Regions from separate parts of the Homo sapiens genome. Here all the other regions are reported to be linked to region 3. Evidence: microRNA targets listed by miRTarBase, many of them from high-throughput screens and not tested one by one. Region 3 holds a microRNA gene; each other region holds the end of a gene's coding sequence.

The links. Region 3 holds the annotated microRNA hsa-miR-519c-3p (AAAGUGCAUCUUUUUAGAGGAU, at 2,185-2,206, opposite strand). A microRNA usually pairs through its seed, bases 2 to 8, with sites in the 3' UTR of a target mRNA and lowers its output. Matches are read on the target gene's strand: a 7mer-m8 pairs with bases 2 to 8, a 7mer-A1 pairs with bases 2 to 7 and ends in A, and an 8mer does both.
Region 1: miRTarBase lists SATB2 as a target of hsa-miR-519c-3p. Seed matches in the 3' UTR shown: 8mer at 869-876.
Region 2: miRTarBase lists BRI3BP as a target of hsa-miR-519c-3p. The part of its 3' UTR that is shown has no 7-base or 8-base seed match.
Region 4: miRTarBase lists POGZ as a target of hsa-miR-519c-3p. Seed matches in the 3' UTR shown: 7mer-m8 at 2,438-2,444.

The regions. Positions count from the first base shown.
Region 1 is chr2:199,268,759-199,272,758 of GRCh38, reverse strand. SATB2 (SATB homeobox 2) reads left to right here. Exons shown (of 11, transcript NM_001172509.2): 11 at 87-3,254. The coding sequence ends at 548. Among named protein-coding and RNA genes, the nearest start is that of SATB2, 190 kb to the left of the region's middle. RefSeq lists an enhancer at 1-874.
Region 2 is chr12:125,024,875-125,028,874 of GRCh38, forward strand. BRI3BP (BRI3 binding protein) reads left to right here. Exons shown (of 3, transcript NM_080626.6): 3 at 117-4,000. The coding sequence ends at 556. It overlaps THRIL (TNF and HNRNPL related immunoregulatory long non-coding RNA), which reads right to left and starts at 2,549. Exons shown (of 1, transcript NR_110375.1): 1 at 569-2,549.
Region 3 is chr19:53,684,479-53,688,727 of GRCh38, reverse strand. It overlaps MIR519C (microRNA 519c), which reads right to left and starts at 2,259; the gene lies at 2,173-2,259. It overlaps MIR515-2 (microRNA 515-2), which reads right to left and starts at 3,719; the gene lies at 3,637-3,719. MIR1283-1 (microRNA 1283-1) reads right to left here and starts at 247; the gene lies at 161-247. The region is part of intron 2 of LOC107985342 (a long non-coding RNA gene); the gene reads right to left.
Region 4 is chr1:151,401,582-151,405,581 of GRCh38, forward strand. It overlaps POGZ (pogo transposable element derived with ZNF domain), which reads right to left. Exons shown (of 19, transcript NM_015100.4): 19 at 1,143-4,000. The coding sequence ends at 3,221. It overlaps PSMB4 (proteasome 20S subunit beta 4), which reads left to right. Exons shown (of 7, transcript NM_002796.3): 6 at 1-49; 7 at 236-356. The coding sequence ends at 248. Among named protein-coding and RNA genes, the nearest start is that of PSMB4, 4.0 kb to the left of the region's middle.

The sequences.
Region 1 (4,000 bases), not on the chromosome of region 3:
AGATAACACATATTTCAGAGGGCTGATGGTTTTGGAAAGGTAAAATCATGAGTCCAGTGTTCATTTTTTTCTCTCTTAATTATCAGGTACTTCATAGACAGCAGTCTCAGCCAGCCAAGGAGAGTTCCCCTCCCAGAGAAGAAGCGCCTCCCCCACCTCCTCCGACTGAAGACAGTTGTGCCAAAAAGCCCCGGTCTCGCACAAAGATCTCCTTAGAAGCCCTGGGGATCCTCCAAAGCTTTATTCATGATGTAGGCCTGTACCCAGACCAGGAAGCCATCCACACTCTTTCGGCTCAGCTGGATCTCCCCAAACACACCATCATCAAGTTCTTCCAGAACCAGCGGTACCACGTGAAGCACCACGGGAAGCTGAAAGAGCACCTGGGCTCCGCGGTGGACGTGGCTGAATATAAGGACGAGGAGCTGCTGACCGAGTCAGAGGAGAACGACAGCGAGGAAGGCTCCGAGGAGATGTACAAAGTGGAGGCTGAGGAGGAAAATGCTGACAAAAGCAAGGCAGCACCTGCCGAAATTGACCAGAGATAATGTGAACTTCTACTAGGCAAAGCAATACATCGGTCCAAGGATTTTCTGCTTTCATTTCTTTAAAAGTTTTTTGTTAGTTTGTTTTTTGTTTTTGTTTTTGGGTTTTTTTGGCTTTATTTTTGTCTTTTTATGTCTGTTTTGTTTTTCTTACCCTTTTGGACATTTCTTTGTTGCACAGGATACACCTATAGACTGAATAAGTTCAGTATTTCCGAATCAGACATCGCCTTGGCAAAGACACTAAAGCGTTACACTTTATCCCGTCTCTATGACTGGATCATAGTCATTATAATCACAGGAGACTCTGCCTTCATTATCCTTGCACTTAACGGAAGTTACATCAGGCAAGTACCAGGATGAAAAGAACTATGAAATAAATGAAGGAAGCTACAAGTGTGTGTGTATATGTATATGTATATATCTCTATATTTACATATATATATTAAAATTGCATGGGACAGAGACTTTGCAATCCGAAAGAATAGACTGTGAAATGAGTTCTTAAAGAAAAGACTTGTTTATGTATTAAAAAAACCACTTCACAGTGAGTCGCTTTGGCTTTTTGATAAACTGCGGCCTGCTCTCAGGGTGGGGTGACTATTTTTGAATTCCTATTTATTTTTTGTGTTTGTCCCTGATTTTTTTTTTTTAATTCTATGGCTTCCTATCTGGCAGCTTAATGGGTAATTTTTGAGGTATGTATTTAACAAAATAAACGACACTGCCGAAAAAAAAAAAAGTGAAGTGAAAACAATCAGGGCACATTAAAATGATACAAGTCAAATAAATCTTAAAGACACAATGCACACTTAAAATGACTCAATAAAATGACTTGCTACGTTCCGTTATTCAATTTGTCATTACTGTAGTGAACAGATGCATTTCTGTGGAATTCCAAATAAGTAAAACTGAAATTCAGTGCAGAGAAAACTTTGTCCACTAGTGCAAGTCTTGATCAAATGACATTTTGACATTGGACATATGGAATTCATAGTATGAGCCACATTTTGTTGTGAAATTTATTTACCTGCTTGTGGCTTCAAATCTGAAAATTAATAAGCCTGCTCGTTTAAAAGTTGTTTGTTGTTGCTGTTTTTTTGTCTTTTTGTTTTTTACTAGAAAATAGTTCAGTGTAATATTAAGTTAGAAAAGAAGTTGCTGCCCAGTTAAAGGGGCTCCCTCTCAAATAAATCTCCATCCTTCCCTCTCCCAAAAGACATTTCTGATTTCTGCTTCACTTTGGGCTTCCTCTTCTTCGTACACATTCCATCTACCTAATCAAACATTTTCAGTCCCTGATCTCTCCTGTCCCTTTTCCTGGGATGACAGCCCTAACAAGAACTGTTTTTGAATCGTTGTGCAGCTCCAGGCAATAGAGTATGTGAAGCGATTTCAGTAGAATCACTTACTCATCCTAAAAGAAAACATTATCCCAGTTACCTACATCGCAATTACCTTATGTAAAGCAGAACTAATGCTGACTGGATGTTTAATGGGATGAGCATTAAAGCTGCAATCTACTATAGTACTCCAGATCTCTTTCGGCTTCCTATGAGAAACACCAGAAGCATTACTTTCCACTTCTACTTACAGTAATTGCAAGAGGAGACCTCACATTCAGGACTGGCCTAGTGAACGTAATCCATGCTTTAAACTGGCCATTAAACAGTCCCACATGGTTGGATTTTTTTTTTTTTTTTGAGTTGTGCTTTCACAAAACCTTGTCAAAGACCTCATGCAATATCACTTTGAAAGTTATTTTCTGTTTACTACACAAACATTGTAATATAACTGTTAATACTATTTATATATTTGAAAGGTATAAAAGGTAGGAGTTAAAAAAAAAACCTCTATGTGTAGATATTAACTCAGAACTTACAATATACAGGGAGAAGACATGTTGCAATACAAGCTAATTCTAGCTGCTCAGTAACCTCTGGAGTTTTTAAAGGGACATTTTCCTGTACTTTTTCAAATAATGATGTTTAAAAATTATCTTGACATAAGCGTCATATACCTTTGCAAAAGGATGGTTGTTTGCAGTTAGCCCTGGCCCCATCCTTCCTATTTCTGTAGTATGCTGCAGCTTTAATCAGAAAGTCCATGGTTGCTGCTTCCTGATCTCCGAGTTACTCTTTCCAAATTGTCTTCTTACACTGTTGCTGAAGGTCACTCTGTACACGTAATGGAAACTGATTTTGCCAAGCTCTTACAAGGTGGTTCATCTATCGATGGCATCCGCATTTGGTATCTTTTACACTTCAACCAAAAATTTATTAGGTATTTTTCAATGCTAAGTCTTGCCTTTTATTTTTTAATTTCACTGCCAAGTTTGCAGTGGTTCTAAGTGAATCTGTGGGCATTTTAGCCTGTGGTCTTGCCAGATCTTTGCGAATTACAATGCATATATGTCTATTTATTCAATATCTGTCATATAATATCTATTTGGAAGAAGAAACTTTCTCTTGTAGTGCCTCTTGACAAAGCACAATTTCCCGCCTTTTTTTTTTTTTGTGAAATGAAAAAAACAAATTGTGTTTTATTGCGGTATCAACAATGTGAATAAGGATTAACATATTGTAAATGTTCTTTTTTCCATGTAAATCAACTATCTTTGTTATCACTAAGTGATAATTAATTTTTAACTTATGTGCATTGTTAGGCTGTTAGAATTTTTTGGTTGTTAAAATAAACGCATTCAATAAATATGACTTTGTTTGTCAGTTATTTTACTGGGCATTATCTGCTTTCCCACTTAATTTTTCATGCAGAGAGAGACCTGGTGAGTCTTAGGAAAATTTGTACCCTTATTTTAGAAACAAGACAGTGGTACCTGCAATTACAGATATATGAGTCCTGTACAGTGCATGGATTTAATAGCACATGTGAATGTATGTGTGTCTCTGTGTGTATATAAACACATGCATGCTCACTTCCTTTATCCAATCTTTTGTCATATACAAACAAAACTCAAATGTATAAAGATATATTTATAGGCTGCTGTTTTATTTTTCTAGTGAATATTTTCTGTTTATAATTAAAAAACCACAAATGACTGCGTGTCAGGAAACTTTTGGAGCACATATGTCCATGGTTAATGGACATAATAAAAGTCTTTTATATTTAGAGCTGGGGTACCATAATGTGTGCATGGAGGAATGCTGAAAGGATTGATGTATCTGAGAAATGTGTGAAAATGATTTTTTAGAAAGTACTTACAATGGAAAAAACTGCTCAAAAGACTAATGTTAATAAGGAAAGAGCAAGTGCTTCGCTTCAGAACTGGCAAAGAAAAAGTAAATTAAAAAGTGATTTTGTTTTCTTTTGATATTGTAAATGTTTTTCCTGTTTATTTTTTTTTCCATTTTTCTGCATTTGATTGACATACAGATGTAACTTCTCTTTCTTCCTCGGTTTCCCTTACCTTTTTTAACAGCCCATGAACCATGTAG
Region 2 (4,000 bases), not on the chromosome of region 3:
TGGTTGTTGCAAAGGCCTTTTAAGCCCCACAGGCCAGCTCAACTATCCAATTCTAGCTTGTTAAGAAACCCCTGGCCCCTGCGTAACGAGCCCTGTTCCTCTTTTCTGTCCCGCAGTCTCCAACCTGTCCCAGTATTTCAGCCCAGCCTCGGTGTCCAGCAGCCCGGCCCGCGCGCTCCTGCTGGTCGGCGTCGTCCTCCTGGCCTACTGGTTCTTGTCCCTGACCCTGGGCTTCACTTTCAGCGTCCTGCACGTGGTGTTCGGCCGCTTCTTCTGGATCGTGCGGGTCGTCCTGTTTTCCATGTCCTGCGTGTACATCCTGCACAAGTACGAGGGCGAGCCGGAGAACGCGGTGCTGCCGCTGTGCTTCGTGGTGGCCGTCTACTTCATGACCGGGCCCATGGGCTTCTACTGGCGAAGCAGTCCCAGCGGCCCCAGCAACCCCAGCAACCCCAGCGTGGAGGAGAAGCTGGAGCACCTGGAGAAGCAGGTCAGACTGCTCAACATCCGTCTCAACCGGGTGCTCGAGAGCCTGGACCGCTCCAAGGACAAGTGAAGGTCAGCCGGCCGGGCGGGTCCACAGTTACCAGCACGCTGTCTCAGAAAACGAAAACGGAGGAAAAAAACCCCAAACCCCAAACAATCTTAATAAACACGACTGAGCAAGAAAGTGGCGCTGTGTAGGGCTATTTCCACCCACCCGGCAGCTCTTAGGACACATTCCCAGAAGAGCGGAAAGATCATTGACGTGGAACTACACACGAAGTGTAATTAGTGGGGGAAAAAATATTTTTTAAACAAAGGATATAACCATATTTAGTTGTACAGTAAGAGAAATTTATCTGTGCATAGAGCATAAAGTTAATTTTTTCAAGCATTTAAATACATCTTTTGTAAGGTTTTTTAATAAAGGCAGATTGAGTCAAGTTTATTAAAACTTTACATGGAGGGGAAGAATATGCTAATTTGACATTTGAGAAAAGTTTAAATGCGAGCGTTTGTTTTCACAGCTTAGGGATTGGTGGGTGAGGTCTGTGTGCGTTATTTTCATGTTCCCAAACTGTGAGCTTTATTTCATGTTATTTTTGGTGGATGTTGACTTAGTTCATGAATGTTGTCACTTCTAAATGTGGACAGTTGGGCTGCAGGATGCAACTCAACCTCTTTTGGATCCTAGAGACCCCTGCCAAGCCCCCATCAGTCCTATTTTTAAATGAAGACATCGCCATTTCTAGAAGACCTGAGATTTTCTTCCCTCTGTGCTTCGATGTATTTTAACCTCAACATTTTGAAACGGAAAATGCAAGGAGGGGCCAAGAAATGTCCTGGGGATTTGATGCCAGGAAGTACCTGGTAAGGATTGGAGATTGCTCCAGAATCTACTGCATGTCCCAATTTGCAGTTTGCTCACTAGGGCTATATACAAAAGCTATACCCTTGAGGGTTTTTTTTTTTTTCTTTTGATTTCCTCAGGACCTTAGAGGGAAAACAAACAGTAGCAGCTAATATTCTCAAGTATATTGCTGCTTAGAAAGATCCTCAGGAACAATTAGCAGCAATAAGCAAGCCTTTGAAAAGATCTGAATTCTTTTTCCTGAAATATTTACGATACACAGGTGCTTTTTATCTGAAATCTGTTGTGTCCTCCTTTTAGGCAGTCTCTGTGGGCAGAGAGTGGGACTTGCGAGGTGGACAGCTGTGGGGATCCTGGGCAAGGGAGTTTCAGAAGGTGTGGCTCAGGGGCTGGTAGAAACCCCCTTTTGTTAGGACTTGTTTTTTAAAAAAGAAAGCCCTAGGCCAGGCGCAGTGGCTGATGCCTGTAATCCCAGCGCTTTGGGAGGCCGAGGAGTATGGATCACCTGAGGTCAGGAGTTCAAGACCAGCCTGGCCAACATGGTGAAACCCCCGTCTCTACTAAAAATACAAAAATTAGTCAGGCATGGTGGTGGGTGCCTGTAGTCCAGCTACTCAGGAGGCTGAGGCAGGAGAATTGCTTGAACCTGGGAGGTGGAGGTTGCGGTGAGCCGAGATCACGCCACTGCACTCCAGCCTAGGCAACAGAGCAAGACTTCATCTTAAAAAAAAAAAAAAAAGCCCAGCATTTTGCAGCTTTGAAGCTGCTGGGGATCACGACTGTCTCTGTGGCCCTTACCTGGCCACAGATGTACCCTGGCAACCCGCTCACAGTGCCCTGCGTGCAGGTTTATAGATAACCCCTGCCAGACCTGCTACAACCAAGACCTTATGGTCCAGGTCTCAGTTTGGAGAAGATTTAGCTGTCTACCACTTCTTGTGTAGTGTTCCTGTGAAGTTTTATTTTTGGTTGCAAGTATCTGGAAAACAGATGCAGATGTTTTTGTGGATGTTGTTGAGACTTTTGAGACTTCTGTTTCTAAGGTACACATGATGGGACCCAAACTCTCCTGGAGAGTTCCATTCACTTCCTGAAACGTGCACCTGTTTCAGGTGCATGTTTATTCAGTGTGCATGGATATTTAAGATTTGCTGGAGCAGGCTGGGCAGGGTGGCTCACCCCTATAATCCCAACACTTTGGGAGGCCAAGGCAGGTGGATCACCTGAGGTCAGGAGTTTGAGACCAGCCCGGCCAACAGAGTGAAACCCCGTCTCTACTAAAAATACAAAAATTAGCCAGGCCTGGTGGTGGGCGCCTGTGATCCCAGCTACTTGGGAGGCTGAGGCTGGAGAATCGCTTGAACATGGGAGGCGGAGGTTGCAGTCAGCTGAGATCATACCACCACACTCTAGCCTCAGCAACAGAGTGAGACTCCGTCTCAAAAAAAATTATTTGCTGGATCGAATCTTTTTTTTTTTGAGATGGAGTCTCACTGTCAACCAGGCTGGAGTGCAGTGGCACCATCTCGGCTCACTGCAAGCTCCGCCTCCTGGGTTCACGCCATTCTCCTACCTCAGCCTCCCAAGTAGCCGGGACTACAGGCGCCCACCATCATGCCCGGCTAATTTTTTATATTTTTAGTAGAGACGGGGTTTCACCGTGTTAGCCAGGATGGTCTCGATCTCCTGACCTCGTGATCCGCCCGCCTCGGCCTCCCAAAGTGCTGGGATTACAGGCGTGAGCCACCGCGCTGGGCCTAGATCAAATCTTTATCCATGCACATTGGAACACAGGATTACTGGGTTGAAATCATTCTAGTTTTGTCATTTAGATACTTGTAGATGAATCTATTTTAGCACAAGGTATAAATAACTCGGGAGGTCATCTCTATCTTCTTTCCTTTTGTGCATTTGGCTATACCACGTTTAGGTACTAAAACAGCTTTGCTTATGTTGGCCAGGGGAAAACATGGCATTCTGTGCGCAAAGCTAATGATCGCCAGCCCTGCCTTGGCCCCTCCCTTGTTTATGGTCATTGTAAGATGCCCGCATGTTAAGGCTTAAGCTGTCACTGGGCTGGGTGTAATACCCGCTTCATTCCTCCTCCCACCCTCTTACCCGAAACATGAAGGGCACTGTGCTCTATTGAGATCTCGATAAGATCATCATTTTAACTTGTATTCAACTGAGGGAGGTAACATGATATCTGGGTGCTGGTGGATTGAGACCTCAAGCATCAATTCAAAATTGCTGTCGAAAATATGCACTATTTTTTTTTTCCACTCTGGCTAAGTGTAGGCTCTGAAGCCAGTTTTATAGCTTGATACATTCTGGTGAAAGATGTCTTCATTTTTAATGAAAGAACCTACAGTTAGTAGGTGTCACCTCAGGGTAGAAATTCTGATAGAAATTCTGATTATTTGAAACTCTGATAGAAATCCTAGATGCTAGATTTGAAGAAAACCTGGGTTTTATTGCATAGATTTCACCTTTTCTGGGGCACATCTTACCCCAAAATAATTGGGGATTTTTTTGTTCCTTCTCCATTCCATGGAACCTTGTAGGGTGTTGGGATTGGGCCTCCCCTCGCCACCCGCCACATGTCTTTGTTTTTTTCTCTCTTTTGTATGTGGAAAAATGTATTTT
Region 3 (4,249 bases):
AGAGCTAGGTTGGAAGTGCCACCGCACTCCAGCCTGGGCAACGGAGACCCTGTCTTAGAAAAACACAAAACCAAAACATAACCCCGCTATCATCCAAGTCTGATGATAAGCATGCTCTGCAAATGTATTACCAAGATCAGCATCAACTTCAACACTGCTTTTCTCAAACCGTAACCCTCAAAAGGGAAGCGCTTTCTCTTCTTTCTGACAACAGAAAGCGCTTTCCTTTGTAGACTCATAGCTTGAGATCTTCTTGCTCCAGCACTCTGGGTTTCGTGTTGGAATTTTCTTTGACCAGGTTTAAATGGACAGAAAAATAAAGATGCATTTAGTGGCCCTGTTTGCATGTTTTCTGGAATCCAGAATAAAACGCCTGAAAAGGACCATCTCCAGTTCCTTGCTTCAAAGGCTCAGCAGGTTAGCCTTGTTCATCAAGGGACAATCCTCCCGAGTTTTGTTCTCAAACAGAAAAAGCAATGCCTACTAGACATACCTTATACTTAACCAAGAGAATTGGACTGGATTTCCAGAGAACAGCAAATGGATTCTGAGCCAAGTGTTCATTTGAGTTCCAGTGCGGAGACACACAGTCCCATTGGAAACATCCAAAATGTGATCTAAGATGTTGAACTATATACATTGTCGCACACACAAACATCCTCCAGGATAGACCACAGGCTAGGTGGTAAAAGCTCCTCAATAAAATTTGAACAGGAATACACAAGTACCAGTTGGGTGTGGTGGCTCATACCTCTAATCCCAGCACATCAGGAGGCCAAGGCAGGAGATTCACTTGAGCTCAGGAGCTCAAGACCAGCGTGTACAACACGGTGAAACCCTGTCTGTAAAAAAATACAAATGTAGGCCAGGTGTGGTGGTACATGCCTGTAGACACTAATTCAGGAGGCTGGGGTGGGAGGCGAAGGTTGCAGTGAGCCAAGACTGAAACACTGCACTCCAACCTGGGCGACTGAGCCAGATCTTGTTGCAAAAAAAAATTTAAAAGAACACACAAGCAAAAACCACCCCAAAGTGATATCAGTCATCTCTGTGTGTAGAAGAGTATTTTTTGTGTATATAATTATATATATGGCTATATGATGAAATATACATCATATATAATATATATATACACACAAACACACCCATATATATATTTTTTTTTTTGAGACAGAGTCTCTCTCTCTATATAAATATATATGTATATATATATTTTTTTTTTGAGACAGTCTTATTCTCTCGCCCAGGCTGGAGTGTGGTGGCGTGATCTTGGCTCACTGCAACCTCCATCTGTCCGTTCAAGTGATTCTCCTCCCTCAACTTCCCCAGCAGATGGGAATACAGGCGTGCGCCACCATAGCTGGCTAATTTTTTGTATTTTTAGTAGAGACAGGGTTTCACCATGTTGGTCAGGCTGGTCTCAAACTCCTGACCTCAAGTGATCCACTCGCCTCAACCTGCCAAAGTGTTGATATTGCAGGCATGAGCCACCGCTCATGTCGTATACACACAAAAACTGCTCATATACTCATGCGCCTGGCTGTACATCATTTATTTTCCAGACCCTATCTCAAAAAAAAAGAAAGTTCCATATACTGTATGCTCACATAAAGAATTACTCCTACACATAAATGTTTGCTCCACACATAAGAAATGAATGGAGTGACAGAGATCACCATGGCCCCTGTGCAGAGGTGATGCCCAAATTCATGATGGGTCTCATATTGAAAATTAAGATCAAAGGCCGGGTGCAGTGGTTCATGACTGTAAACCCAGCACTTTGGGAGGCCGAGGCAGGTGGATTACGAGGTCAGGAGATGGAGACCATCCTGGTCAACACGGTGAAACCCCATCTCTGCTAAAAATACAAAAATTAGCCGGGCGTGGTGGCATGGGCCTGTACTCCCAGCAACACAGGAGACTGAGATGGGAGAACCACTTCAACCCGGGAAGGGGAGATTGTAGTGAGCAGAGATCGTGACCCTGCAAAGAGGACCACCTGAGCCCAAGAGAGCTAGGTTGGAAGTGCCACTGCTCTCCAGCCTGGGCAAAAGAGACCCCGTCTTAGAAAACAAACAAACCAGGAACAAAAGCCCACCCTCATCCAAGTCTGATGATAAGCACGCTCTGCAAATGTATTGCCGAGATCAGCATGAACGTTAACGTTGCTTTTCTCAAACTGTAATCCTCTAAAAAGATGCACTTTCTTTTCTTTCAGACAACAGAAAGCGCTTCCCTCTAGAGGGTCACAGGCTGAGATCTTCTTGCTCCAGCACCATTGATTTTTTGTTGGAATTTTCCTTGACCAGGTTAAAATGGACACAAAAATAAAGATGCATTTATTGGCCCTGTTTGCATGATTTCTGGAATCCAGAACATAAACCCCTATCAGGGCCATCTCCAGTTCCTTGTTTCAAAAAGCAATGCCGACTATACATACCTTATATTTAACCATGAGAATTGGGCTGGATTCTAGAGAACAGCAATAGATTTTGAGCTAAGTGTTCACTCGAGTTCCAGTACAGTGACACACAGTCCCGACGGGGGCATCCAAAATGGAATCTACGATGTTGAAGAATATGCATTGTCACACACACAAACACCCTCCAGGAGAGACCACAGGCCAGGCTGTAAAAGCTCCTCAATAAAATGAGCAGAAACACACAGGTACAGGTGAGGTGTGGTGGCTCACACCTCTAAACCCAGCCCTTTAGGAGGCTGAGGCAGGAGTATCACTTGAGTTCAAGAGTTTGAGACCAGCCTGGGCAACATGGTGATACCTCATGTGTAGAGAAAACAGAAAAGTTAGCCGGGCGTGGTGGTGTGCGCCTGTAGACAGCTACTCAAGAGGCTGAAGTGGCAGGTGGAGGTTGCAATAAGCTGAGATGGCACCACTGCACTCTAGCCTGGGTGACAGACCCAGACCTTATCTAAAAAAAAAACAAAAACATACACACACAAACAAAAAATTACCCAAAGTGATACGAGAGTATTCTCTGTGTATAGAAGAGTGTTTTGTGTGTATATGACTATGTTACATGTATAATAAGAATATGATAAAATATATATTTTTGAGACCGTACATCAATAAAAATTAAGTTCCATATACTATGTGCTCACATGAAAAATAATTCCTACACATATGTGCTTGCATTGGCAGCACACATTAAAAAAAATTGGAGGCTAGGCTGGGTGGCTTACACCTATAATCTCAGCATTTTGGGAGGCTGAGGCAGGCGGATCACCTGAGGTCAGGAGTTGGAGACTAACCTGGCCATCATGATGAAACTGCATCTCTGCTAAAAATGCAAATATTAGCCAGGCGTCGTGGCACGTGCACCTGTAATCCCATCTACTTGGGAGGAGAGGTTGCAGTGAGCAGATAACATGCCACTGCGCTCAAGCCTGGGCCAGAGACAGAGACTCTGTTTCAAGAAAAAAAAAAAAAGCAAGCACGGGACCACTTGAGCCCAAGAGATCTAGGTTGGAAGCGCCACCGCACTCCAGCCTGGGCAACAGAGACCCCATGATGCAAAACAACTAAACAAAAACAGAACCCCAACATCATGCAAGTCTGATGATAAGCACGCTCTGCAAATGTGTTACCAAGATCAGCATCAACTTCAACGTGGTTTTTCTCAAACAGTAACGCTCCAAAAGAAGGCACTCTGCTTTCAGACAACAGAAAGTGCTTTCTTTTGGAGAATGACTGCATGAGATCTTCTCGCTCCAAAAGTCTGGGTTTTTTGACGGAATTTTCCTCACCTGGTTAAAATGGACACAAAAATAAAGATACATTTATTGACTCTCTCTGCATGTTTTCTGGAATCCAGAATATAAACCCCTAAAAGGACCATCTCCAGTTCCTTGCTTCAAAGGCTCAGCAGGTTAGCCTTGTTCATCAAGAGACAATCCTCCTGAGTTCTGTCCCCAAAGAGAAAAAGCAATGCCTACCACACATACCTTATATTTAACCATGAGAATTGGGCTGGATTTCTAGAGAACAGCAATGGATTTGAAGCCAAGTGTTCACATAAGTCCCAGTACAGGGACACACAGTCCCCATGCAAGCATCCAAAATGGAATCTAAGATGATGTTTAAGAATATACACTGTTGTACACACATTCTCCAGGATAGAACACAGGCTAGGCCATAAAAGCTCCTCAATAAATTTTTTTTTTTTTTTTGAAACAAGTCTCACTTTGTTGCCCAGGCTGTAGTGCAGGGCCGTGATCTCAGCTCACTGCA
Region 4 (4,000 bases), not on the chromosome of region 3:
AGGGACCATTGTCTACAGAGACCAACTGGGATATTGCCCACATGATCAGGTGAGTAATAGGGAAAAAATTGGTGACAGACTTGGGAGGTCTTTGGCTTACACTAAGCTGGGCTTTTCTGGGAGGCTCACCCAGGAAAATTTTCTGGGTGGAAAGTTTTGGTTGGACAGTACAGCTATTTTTAGGAATTGATCCCTTTATGCTTCACAATTTTATTATTCTGTCTTCCTTTTTTAGTGGCTTTGAATGAAATACAGATGCATTATCCAGAACTGAAGTTGCCCTACTTTTAACTTTGAACTTGGCTAGTTCAAAGATAGACTCTTCTTTTGTAAAGTAAATAAATTCTTCAAAATGCTTGCTGAGTGGTTTTTGTCTGACTGGGTCACACCAAGTGCAAAACTGCTGAGTACTGCCATGTGCCATCTCCCTCCCTGGTCGGAGAACCCTTGTGGTCTTGCAGCACACACAGAAATTCTCTCTGCACAACACAGAAAGACACACTAGCGTCATTTGGAGCTGTATTAGAAGCAGAGCTTCCTGTAGAAGCCAGACTTAATTTTTGTGTGCTAACTGGCTTTTGTGTTCAAATTCCCCTCCCAAATCTTCCTCCACTGCACTGGATTATCAAATACAGATTTCTTAATGTTGGCTGTGATTTTCATTAAAATACCACTTTAAAAATAATCTAGTAGAACTATTCTGCATCAGGTTGCCCTCAAGTCAGCTGGGGCATCAGCCATCCCTGGAATGGTTCTAAACCTGAATATTTTAGAGACAAAAGTCTCATTCTGTTGCCCAGGCTGGCGTGCAGTGGCATGATCATAGCCTACTACAGCCTTGAATTTCTGAGCTCAAGCAACCTCCTGCCTCAGCCTCCCAAGTGCTGGGATTACTGGCATGAGCCATCATGCCCAGCTTGAATTTTTAAAATGAACACTGTAGGCGATTCTGACACAAATCCTCTCCAAACTTCTTGAGAAAGAAAATATAGGCAGCAAATTCAAAGTACAGAAATTCAGTGAGAACTGAAGGAAAAAATAAAACCATCCCTCCATTTGCATTGTCCGTTAACAACAAACTTGTAAAGCCAAACAATGAGCTTTCAATCTGAAACCTCCACACATTCAGTCTCAACACAGGAAACAGTCAATAAATACATGTTTATTGATTAAACTGAATTATAAAAAACAAAACCAAAAAAAAATTTCCTTCTACTACTAAGCCATGCAGGCAGAGTCCACAAAGACAACTTCCTGGCCAAAACCCAGCTGATCCACTGTTGGTATAATCTTAAAAAAAATTACCCATCAAGAAAGTCAATCGTGTGCAGAAGACAGGAACCCCAGCTCTGCTAAGGCTGTGGCTGCTGCAGAGACTACCAAAGAGTAGGATTAGGTTGTAGATAGACGTGACCAACCATAGTTCTTGAACTTTCTCAAAGGCAAAGGCTGACTTCAAAGTCCATTGTCTGTCAATAAAATGGCATCAGGCAAAAAGCTGGGGAAGAGAAGCCCAGATGGATCCTTGGTTGTTTTCAGATGTCAAAGGTTCACAAAGCTGGCCAAGCTGTTTCTGGAAGGGACTTTTCCAGTTCACTATATTATAGTGTGCTGGGGGATGAAAAAACAAACAAACAAAAAAGCAGGGTGGGGTGGGAGAAATGGGTGGTAACAAATGTCACACCTGTACCACCAGGCCCATCACATCTTGAGCATTCCCCAGTCTGTGAAAGCCTATTAAACAGGGTCACCTAGAAAAAAAACAAGTTTATAAATCCATTTCCCCTCATTTTATTAAATGTTCCACTTATGTACATTTTAAAGACGAACCATTTACAAGCTTGTGCAGTTTGCCTCCTTGGCTCACAGGAGGGGAACATTGTGGAAAGCCTCAGGATAAACAGAAGACTTGGTTTTTTGCTCCTTTTCTCTGTACGGTACAGTACGTTTTGGTTTACAACCATGAGTACATACAATTAAAAAAATCCCTCATGCAAATTGTAGAAAAAATTTTCTTTCCTTGAAGCTGGCAGTGAAAAATAAAGATTCATGTCATTTTCTTTGTGCACACCCCTGTGCGCTTCTTCCTGTCAGATTCTTCCCTAAGTATTAAGAGAAATAGGGGAAAGCCACAGAGCACGCTGGATTTCAACAAGTGGTCTTGTCTTTTTAAAGTTCAACACTTCTTGAACAATTAGCTCCTGGCTGTAGGACCAGTAATCCCTTAAACAGGCATGCTCTCCATCTAACAGGATGAAGTTCAGTAAAGCAGGGACTGCCCCTGGGGGCTTACAGGATGAAGACTCAAACTGGGAATGGCTTCCACCCTAAAACTGTTTGATCGCTTCAGTATCTCTTGCTTGCTAATAACACCTGTATGATCCTTTGTCCAGAGGGATGGATGGTGTTGAGAATGGGGAAAGGGGCCAAGGATCACAAGTGCAAAAAATATTGTTTATGTCATGTTTTGGAGGGAAGGTGGTGAGGAAAAGACAAATCTATTCATTCTGGATAATTAAAGGTGGTTTCATGCATTTTTAAAGCCACAATTTTATATCTAGGGTTGCTGTAGAAACCAACATCTCTGGAGAGGGAAGGAAAGAAAAGGAGAAGGAAGAGAGAGTTCAGTGGGACTTTTTTTCCATTTTCATTTTTATATAAAAGTGTTAAGACCACAATGAAAAAAGTTTTTTATCCATATATATAATAAACCAGTTTGTGAGCTACATAATTTGTCTTTCCCATCTTCAGAAATGTTCTCACATTAACAATGATTAGATAGCATCATGCCCAAAGACATTGGCCACACAATAAAACAAACAAAAAAACCCAGTACTATGATACAATTGAGGTAAAAGGGGAAACAAAAAAATTTAACATTTGCCCACAAATAATTTTTTTTCTTTTTCTTAATTTTGTCAGAAAAATACCAAACACAGTGATTTAAATTTAAAAAAAAAAAAAGTCACAAAAACCTGTTTTTAGCAGAAGTGAATGACCAATGGGCCAGCTCCTTGGCTCAGACGTGATTACTATTGGTTTTCCTAATTAATCCACAAATCCACAGGGAAGTGTAAGTCAACTTCAGGGGGGAGTGGTGGTATAAAATTAAAAAATAGAAACCAAATACCCCACCTGGTATGCCCCCTTTTCCCTAAGCCCCTTTACCCTCCCTCACATGTTCCCACCCTCACTCCACACCCCCTCATGACCCCAACACTCAAATCTCCATCAGATCTAGGTCAGCTTCTTCAAAGCCATAGAAAGACTCGGTCTCACTTTCACCCTCAAAGAGCTGGTGAAGACTTTCAGGCTCAATTGTCTCTTCAGGAGATGATCTGGGTCGTGGAGTGGAAGACTCAGAATGTTCCCCACTCAGCTTCAGTTGCTCCTCTAGGGAGGCAATTAGCTCCTCCTGCATGTCAGCATTTCTTGTAGGTGAGTTAATGTTGCCATCGGGGCCAGGCAGAACACTAGCCACCAGGAAGGAGCGCTGAACTAGCTCTGGACAGTCCCCAATGACACCTAGCACTTCACCCAGCCAGACAAGCACCAGCTGAAGCAGGACATCAGAATCACATGCAGTATCTGCCATTTCCCGAGCCTGTTCCTTCCATTTTTTATGCAGGAAGTTCTTGACAGTTCTTTTGATGCATACATCTAATGGCTGAATTTTGGAGCTACAGCCTGCTGGGACCACTGCAGGCAAAGTGCTAGAGGCACTAAGCATAGCCAGTACCTCTTCTGACAAGTGAGTGCGATGACAGTCCATCACAAGCATGCCTTTGCTGCGCTGGCAAGCTGTGTGCTTCTGCCACACTCGAGTTGACCACAGCTCCATGATCTCGTCATCACTGTAGCCACTCTCCTTTGCCTCTAGCAATATGGAGTCTGGCATGTTAGCAGGCTGATCCATCTGCCCTCTGTAGAAAACCAGGGTGGGAAGGACAGTGCCATCTGCCAGAATGGCTAGGACTACATCACACCAAGGTTCCCCTGT